Linked DNA regions of Homo sapiens: region 2 is linked to region 1. Evidence: fine-mapped expression QTL. A gene starts in region 1. The other region holds a variant in brackets. All regions are shown on one strand. Distances are between the middles of the regions. Region 1 holds the start of IFRD2 (interferon related developmental regulator 2). Region 2 has its middle 7.8 kb from the start of HYAL2.

Evidence for each region. PIP is the estimated chance that this variant, and not a neighbour inherited with it, causes the effect.
Region 2: its variant is the best candidate, but not a certain one, in a credible set for the expression of IFRD2 in skeletal muscle (GTEx, PIP 0.58).

What each region holds. Positions count from the first base shown.
Region 1 is chr3:50,290,405-50,294,765 of GRCh38, reverse strand. IFRD2 (interferon related developmental regulator 2) reads left to right here and starts at 2,337. Exons shown (of 12, transcript NM_006764.5): 1 at 2,337-2,549; 2 at 4,087-4,206; 3 at 4,294-4,361. The coding sequence starts at 2,492. HYAL3 (hyaluronidase 3) reads left to right here. Exons shown (of 4, transcript NM_003549.4): 2 at 1-57; 3 at 1,045-1,134; 4 at 1,251-1,934. The coding sequence ends at 1,520. RefSeq lists enhancers at 903-1,458, 1,849-2,038 and a silencer at 2,419-2,628.
Region 2 is chr3:50,312,778-50,317,160 of GRCh38, reverse strand. No RefSeq gene overlaps it. Among named protein-coding and RNA genes, the nearest start is that of HYAL2, 7.8 kb to the left of the region's middle. The variant A/C (reference allele first, on the strand shown) is at 2,134.

The DNA.
Region 1 (4,361 bases):
CCTGTCCTGGCCTATGTCCGCCTCACACACCGGAGATCTGGGAGGTTCCTGTCCCAGGTAAGTGGAAGCTGAGGTCTAGGGGTCTGAGTCAGGAGGTATGGCCCTGTTCTAGGAAGGTCCCAGGAGAAGACCTTGCCTAGGGGTTGGTCCTAATCTAGGCGTTCTCAGCGGAAGGCCCTGTCCTGGAGCATCTGATGAGGGAGGCATGGCTTTGCCCTGGAAGATGTTGAGGGGTAGGGAGGCCCAGCCTTTGGAGTGCTGGCCTGAGGGGAGATATTCTGAGTGGAAGGCCTGAGAAGCCACTCAGAGACTCGATACAAAGGGGCCCTACTTGGGCTGGGTGAGTGTCTCACACCTATAATCCCAGTACTTTGGGAGCCTGAGATGGAAGGATTCCTTGAGGCCAAGAGTTCGAGACCAGCCTGGGCAACATAGTGAGACCCCAACCTCTACCAAAAAAACATTTGAGACAGAGTCTTGCTCTGTTGCCCAGGCTGGAGTGCAGTGGCACCATCTCAGCTCACTGCGGCCTTCACTTCCTGGTTCTAGTGATCCTCCCACCTAAGCCTCCTCCCGAATAGCTGGACTACAGATGCATACCACCACACCCAGCTAATTTTTATATTTTTGTAGAGATGGGGTTTTGTCATGTTGCCCAGGCTGGTATTGAACTCCTGGGCTCAAGTGATTCTCCCGCTTTTGCCTCCCAAAGTGTGGGATTACAGGTGTGAGCCACTGTGCCCAGCCTAAAAAATTATTAGCCAGGTGTTATGCACCTGTAGTCCCAGCTGCTTGGGAGGCTGAGGTGGGAGGATTACTTGATCCCAGGAGTTCAAGGCTGCAGTGAGCTATGATCATGCCACTGCACTCCAGCCTGGATGACAGAGTAAAACCCCGCCTCTAAAACCAAACCAAACTAGAGAGTCCCTACTGTAGAGTTAGAATCAGATTGTGACAGTGAACCAGAAGAGTTTCTTGAATGTGGATGTGTGCCCACATGGATCTGGCCAGCCCAGCACTGGCTTAGCAGCTCTCTGCCTCCAGGATGACCTTGTGCAGTCCATTGGTGTGAGTGCAGCACTAGGGGCAGCCGGCGTGGTGCTCTGGGGGGACCTGAGCCTCTCCAGCTCTGAGGTGATCATTGCCCCTTTGAGCCTGCCATGTAGCACATGCTGGGGTCCCAGGGTGGGGGACGGCCATGTCAAGATTATAGAGCAGGCATATTGACACATATCTTCCCTTCTCCTCAGGAGGAGTGCTGGCATCTCCATGACTACCTGGTGGACACCTTGGGCCCCTATGTGATCAATGTGACCAGGGCAGCGATGGCCTGCAGTCACCAGCGGTGCCATGGCCACGGGCGCTGTGCCCGGCGAGATCCAGGACAGATGGAAGCCTTTCTACACCTGTGGCCAGACGGCAGCCTTGGAGATTGGAAGTCCTTCAGCTGCCACTGTTACTGGGGCTGGGCTGGCCCCACCTGCCAGGAGCCCAGGCCTGGGCCTAAAGAAGCAGTATAAAGCCAGGGCCCCTGCCACTGCCTCTTCTTTTCCCTGCTGCCACTTTTCCAGTCCTGGAACTACTCTGTCCCACTCTTGCTCTATTCAGTTTACAGTCAACCCTCCCAAGCACACACCCCGCTTCCCTTGGAATCCCTGAGGGGTAGAAGGGGCCAGAAAAAACGCTTATAAAACCAGAGGCCCTCTGAGATCATGTGAGTCCTCCATGGCAAGGAAGCAGTTCCAGGGAGAGTCAGGTTCCAGCTAGTTAGGGCTGCCAGCCTAGGGCTTTGTGCCTACACCTCACTAAGCCCATGGAGAGGTCACAGATGGGCCGTGCACGGGCAGATGGGCCCCAAAAAATCTTGGCGAAGGTCGGTAAAGTGCTAAGCTGTTGTCTGCACTCTTTCATCATAAAGTCACTTTTTTCCACTGCCTGAGGTTTGGCTGTTGCTCCTGTTATCCCAAGCTCTAAGCCCTTCCCATGGTCCCCAGACCCAGGCAGGGGTAGGTCTCGTCTGGAGTGTCCCGCTGCCAAGTGCCCTGAGAAGCCAGTCCTGCCTTGGTGCTCCACTGAGGGACGCTTCGGAGTTAACCACCGTGCACTTGTTCCCGACGCGGGGCTGGGGCGCGCGCAGGGCATTGTGGGTGCATAGTTCAGCCAGCGCGTCGTCGGCTGGTGGGCCCCAGGCGTGGACTACCATTCCCATGGTGCTCTACGCGCAGCTAGCCGCCGTCGCCTGCGCGCTCAGGCCTCTGGGATTAGTAGTTTTAGCCTCGTGGATGTGGGCCTGAATCGGATGGCCTGGAACTCGCCTTCCCGGCGACCTGTTTGGCAGGGCGGGGCGCCTCGCGAAGATGGTGGCGCGCGTGGCGTGTGGCTCCCGTCGTCTGGCCAAGTCTCAGCGCAGCGCACCGGCCGGCGTCTCGTTGGCCTGGAGCCCACACCCACCGGGTCCCTGACCCCGCGCCCCCCGCGCCCGGTTCCCGGCATGCCTCGCGCCCGTAAGGGCAACACGCTCCGGAAGGGTGGTCAGCGCCGTGGAGGAGGTGAGTGGGGTGGGGGGCGCGGGACAGCTGTATGAGCGGCGGGCGGGGGTCCTGCTGGATCCCCTTGGTTGTTCTCGAGGGCCCTGGGTGGGGAACCCCCTCGGCCAGCCCCACGCAGCTTCCCATAACTCTACCGAGGCTGGCACGTGCCCCAGCAGTCATTGGCCACGTGCGTGCCCAACTTGAGCTCGCTGCCCACTGCCTGTTGGGAGTCCGCGCTCCCAGCGGTGACCCGGCCAGCCCCTCCGGGCCTCAGTTGCCTGCTGGGTGGACAAACTCACCGGACAGGGCAGGAAGCCAGTCCTCTTGCCAAACCCTGATCCTTTCCTGGACTGGTCAAGGAAGTTGGCGGGAGTCCTGGCCTGCTCCGGTGAAGAGAGGGAGGGGGCTCTGTTGGGAAGCTACCTGGTTAGGGCCTTGGCAGCTTGGCAGGCCTGACTCCACAAGGTAGCTGAGTATCCTGGAGCCTGAGGCAGTCTTGGGACTCGCTTATCAGCTTAGACCAGGAGCCTATCTTAATGCGTTAAACACATATGTTTACTCTGCTGGGATGGGGTGCCTACCACGCACAAATTTATTTATTTTTATTCTTGAGGGGGAAGGGAGGAGGGCCGGGCACAGGAAGGAGGAAAATACCTAGGCACAACTTTAAACTGGTCACCACCATGGTGGGTTTTGGGTGGGGGACATCTAATAGGGTGTGGAACATGTTCACTGAGTGGTGTCAGCCCCAGACTTAGGACTCAGGGAGGCCTGGGGGGAAGTGCTTCTGGGTGAGTCCTGAGAGGATGGAGAAGAGAGCAAGTTGTACAAAGACCTGGCAGCTGGAGGGACCCCAGCGCAGTGGAGTGAATGAGGGAAGGCTGGGCTGCTCCGGCAGGTAGAATAGTAAGATAAAATGGGAGCAGGCTGGGCGTGGTGGCTCACACCTGTAATCCCAGCACTTTGGGAGGCCAAGGCAGGCAGATCACCTGAGGCCAGGAGTTCGAGACCAGCCTGACCAACATGGAGAAACCCTATCTACTAAAAATACAAAATTAGCTGGGTGTGGTGTCGTATGCCTGTAATCCCAGCTACTCGGGAGGCTGAGGCAGGAGAATCACTGGAACCCGGGAGGCAGAGGTCGCAGTGAGCCGAGATGGCGTCATTGCACTCCAGCCTGGGCAACAAGAGCAAAACTCTGTCTCAAAAAAAAAAAAAAAAAAAAAAGGTGGCGGGGAGCAGAGGCCAGTGCGCAGGCTGGACTTTGTCCTGCAGATGAGGGGTGTGAGTAGTTCTTAGAAGTAGGGCCAGCCTGGTGATCACACCCTGTCCAAAACTCTGCCACAGCAGCCAACCTTGCCAATGTCAGCCCTTGGCCCTGGACAGACCCCACACACAGGAGTGCACCAGCCCTACTGAACTGACCCTTGGCTTTGGTTTTTCATCTCTGAGAGGGACACCATTCTATCTTTTGGGATTATGAGGTCGAGTGAGGTACCCCCAGCCATCCCTCATCAGTAGAGGCAAGTTGAGTGTCCTATTCCACCTTCTCCAGGTGCCCGGAGCAGTGCCCAAGCTGACTCGGGTTCCAGTGACGATGAGGCAGCCAGTGAGGCCCGCAGCACCGCCAGTGAATGCCCCAGCCTTCTCAGCACCACTGCAGAGGACAGCCTTGGTGAGAGCGGGTGGAAGTTTGACAGGGGCTTGGTGAGGGCTCCATGGGCTGAGGACAAGAAGCGGTGCTGACCAGGTGGCCTTGCAGGGGGGGATGTCGTGGATGAGCAGGGCCAGCAGGAAGACCTTGAGGAAAAGCTGAAGGAGTATGTGGAC
Region 2 (4,383 bases), 22 kb before region 1:
TCTCTGGCTGTCCCTGAGGAAAGAAGGAGCAGCTGGAGTTGTCAGACCAGCTCTGAGCTGCTTCACTAGCCCTGCCTCTGACGGGAGTGCATTCTGCCTCTCCCCTCAGCCAGCAACCCCACACCTGGGGTCCCGCCCATGTCCGTGATGACTCACCACGCAGCCCTGCTTCAGGAGGCTCTGGCTCTGGGGAGACAGACTCAAGAAGCCGTTGAGTGGTGAGGGCAGCCAGCAGCAGGGGAGCAGGGGTGGTGCCCTTGGAGATGCTTCCCACATTGGGTTCTAAAAGGTGAGGGCGGCAGCTCGATGCTCAGGAACAAATCCTGGGCAGAGGCTGGAGGAAGTTGGAGGTGGTGAAGGTGAACAGTTCAGGGCTGGGGTGTGGCTTAGTGGCTGCTGTGGGCAGAGGCAGGAGGGGCAGCCCTAGAGCAGCACCAGGCCTGACTTCACCTAATACTGACTTACTCATTCAGTAAACGCTGAGCACACAGTGTGCCTGTGCTGGGCTAGGTGCTGGGGATGCATCGATGATGCATCTATGAACCACACCAACAAAGACCCCCGTCCTTGTGGGAGTGACAAAATAGAGGTAGATGCACACTAGATGCAAAGACCGAGATGCCAGATGGGAGAAACAAGCCCGGCCAAGCCAGTGCCAACCCAGGCTGTAAAGATATCCTTCCCTCACCTCTTTCGCCGGTGATGGGTAGAGAATGGAGAGGAGAGAGTGAGGTGGTAACACTGGAAAGGTGACGTGGTAAATTCACACAGTGAAGGAGGAGGTGCACATACAAGTGGAGGGGTCCCAGGTGCTCATGGCCATGGTGGGGGGAGGCCAGGCTGGAGAGAAGATTCAGGTGTTGGTCAATAAAATGATGGGCCGGGTGCGGTGGCTCACCCCTGTAATCCCAGCACTTTGGGAGGCCAAGGCAGGTGGATCACTTGAGGCCAGGAGTTTGAGACCAGCCTGGCCAACATGCTGAAACCCTGTCTCTACTAAAAATACAAAAATTAGCTGGGCATCCGGGCCTGGTGGTTCACGCCTCTAATCCCAGCACTTTGGGAGGCCGAGGCGGACAGATCACAAGGTCAGGAATTAGAGACCAGCCTGACCAACGTGGTGAACCCCATCTCTACTGAAAATAAAAAATTAGCCGGGTATGGTGGTGCCTGCTTGTAATCCCAGCTACTCAGAAGGCTGAGGCAGGAGAATCGCTTGAACCCGGGAGGTGGAGGTTGCAGTGAGCCAAGATCACACCACTGCGCTCCAGCCTGGGCGACAGAGTGAGACTCTGTCTCAAAAAAAAAAAAAAAAATTAGCTGGGTTTGTTGGTGCACACCTGTAGTCCTAGCTGCTTGGGCAGCTGAAACACAAGAATCACTTGACCCCAGGAGGTTGCAGTGAGCGGAGAATGGGCCACTGAACTCCAGCCTGGGTGACAGAGCAAGACTCTGTCTCAAAAAAAAAGTTGCCACAATAAGATGATGGCACTTAGCAAAAGGACAGCAGGAAAGGAGAAAGGAGCTGTGGCCTGTCCCCCATACCTGTGACTTCCTGCACCTGTGACCTCCCCCACACAGATGTGACCCATGCATACCTCTGAGCTACCCCACCCACACCCAACACACAGAGGTGATCCAGACCACACCACTGTGACCTTTCCCACCTAGCTATGACCCCTACATACCTGTAACCCCTCCCATGTGTGACCCCATACAGCTGTTACCGTCTCCAAATAACTGACTCCTCCGCAACTGTGACCTCTCCTGCATAGCTGTGACCAGTACCCATCGAGCTGTGACCCCCTCCATATAAACCTTTATGAACCTCACATTTCTTCCCCCGGAGGACCTAAAAGATGGTCCTAGGGAAAGTGCAACTCAGGGAGAGCCAGCACTGTCCTGTGGGGAAAGCGGGGAGTGGGTAGGAATAAGGTAATGGGGAGTGATGCGGCTCAGAGATCTGAAGTGTTGAACAACCGGAGACAGCAGGCGGGACTGGACCATCAAGCTGATGGACCCCAGACATATGCGCACACACACACCATTTGAGCCAATCCTACTGGACCAGCCCAGTAGGAGCAGGCCTGTGGGCAGGGCCCTGGGGTGGAGGAGGATTTCAGGCACCCTCAG[A/C]TTCTTCCTATGGTTCCACCATTAGAGCTTCTCCCTTGGACTGAGGCCAGCTGGAGAATGCTGGCCTGGTGGTTACCTGGATTGGGCCAACTGCAGCACTAGGTTTCTGGGGGCACCAGGAGGTGGCATGAATCCTTGAGGAGGGGGGCCAGGGGTTGCCTTGATGTTCTGTTCCCTCAGCCCTCAAGAGTTGTGCCAGGCTCTCTGGGCCTACATGGTCATCACTCTGGGACCCTGCTTCCTGAACTGGATCAGCAGTCACCACTTCTGGGGCTTGATCTTGTGTACAAGTCTCATGCTGTCCCCAGCATCCTGGGCCCTTCTTTCCCTCAGCCCTGCCAGCTTTTCTATCCCAGGCAGCCTGTAGGACCCAACCCAGATGGTAGTTAACTGTGAGTTTCGTTGCTTCAGTGGCCACCGTGCCAGGGGTGGCCTGGCTACAGTGGCTCAGTCTCAGACTTGACTCAGATCCAGGTAGCACTTTCACTTGGGCAGGGACATGGTGTTTCCTTCAACCTACTCTGGCAGGCAAGGCTGGGCCCAAGCACCTAGCAGGTGTCAATAACCAGCTTCTGAATCAGCTGTGAACCCAGAAAATCTGACAAAGGTCTCAGTTAACTTAGAAAGTTTATTTTGCCGAGGTTGAGGACTTGCTGGTGACACAGCCTCAGGAAGTCCTGAGGACATGTGCCCAGGGCGGTTGGGGCACAGCTTGGTTTTATAGATTTTAGGGAGACATGAGACATTAATCAATATGTAAGAAGTACATTAGTTCCAGAAAGAAAGGTGGAGACTGCTCAAATCAAGGCTCCCAGGCTCAAAGCACTGGGGGCTTCCAGGTCACAGATAGGTGAGAGACAGATGGTTGCATTCTTTTGAGTTTCTGGTAAGTCTTTCCAAAGGAGGCAATCAGAATATGCATCTATCTCTGTGAGCAAAAGGATGACTTGAATAGAATGGGAGGCAGATTTGTCCTGAGCAGTTCCCAGCTTGAAGAGGCCCAAGATACTTTCCTTTCACATTTACCCCATTTTCTTTTTCAAAATCTTTTGGAGAAAGCATTTTGCAAGAAAATGAGTATCTGGTCTCAGGTTTCATCTGATCTCTCATTGCTAGATAAGTAGGTCCGGAAAGCTCATTTTTAGCAGGTTGTAAAGTCTCATGCAGTGTGAAGAGAAAATAGGGAGAAGGAAGGAAGAGAAAAAAAAAACAGCAAAAGAACAATCCCAGCCCTGGCGGGGTGGCTCATGCCTGTAATCCCAACAATTTGGGAGGCTGAGGCGGGTGGATCACCTGCGGTTGGGAGTTCGAGAACAGCCTGACCAACATGGAGAAACTCTGTCTCTACTGAAAATACAAAAAACTAGCCAGGCATGGTGGCTCATGCCTGTAATCCCAGCTACTCAGGAGGCTGAGACAGGAGAATCACTTGAACCCAGGAGGCGGAGGTTGCAGCAACCTGACATTGCGCCATTGCACTCCAGCCTGGGCAACAAGAGTGAAACTCCATCTCAAAAAAAAAAAAAAAAAAAATCCTGGGAAAATATAGGCCACATTACTCTGAAGTCCATACATTGGTAGGCAGGTATGAAAGTGGCTTATGTATGTACATAAACAGGTTACTGTTACTTTCTTCTGAAGTGTAAGTTGTCTGACTTTAGTTGACACGCTTTTAAGAAACCACAGCTAGGGCCGGGCGCAGTGACTAACGCCTGTAATCCCAGCACTTCGAGAGGCCGAGGCGGCCGGATCACAAGGTCAGGAGTTCGAGACCAGCCTGGTCAATATGGTGAAACCCTGTCTCTACTAAAAATACAAAAATTAGCCAGGCATGGTAGCAAGCGCCTGTAGTCCCAGCTACTCGGGAGGCTGAGGCAGGAGAATTGCTTGAACCTGGGAGGCATAAGTTGCAGTGAGCTGAGATCGCGCCACTGCACTCCAGCCTGGGTGACAGAGCGAGACTCCATCTCAAAAAAAAAAAAAAAAGAAACCACAGTGGCCGATTGCAGTGGCTCCCCCTCCCCCTCCCCCTCCCCTCCCCCTCCCCCTCCCCCTCTCCCTCCACGGTCTCCCTCTGATGCCGAGCGGAAGCTGGACTGTACTGCTGCCATCTCGGCTCACTGCAACCTCCCTGCCTGATTCTCCTGCCTCAGCCTGCCGAGTGCCTGCGATTGCAGGCACGCGCCGCCACGCCTGACTGGTTTTCGTATTTTTTGGGTGGAGACGGGGTTTCGCTGTGTTGGCCGGGCT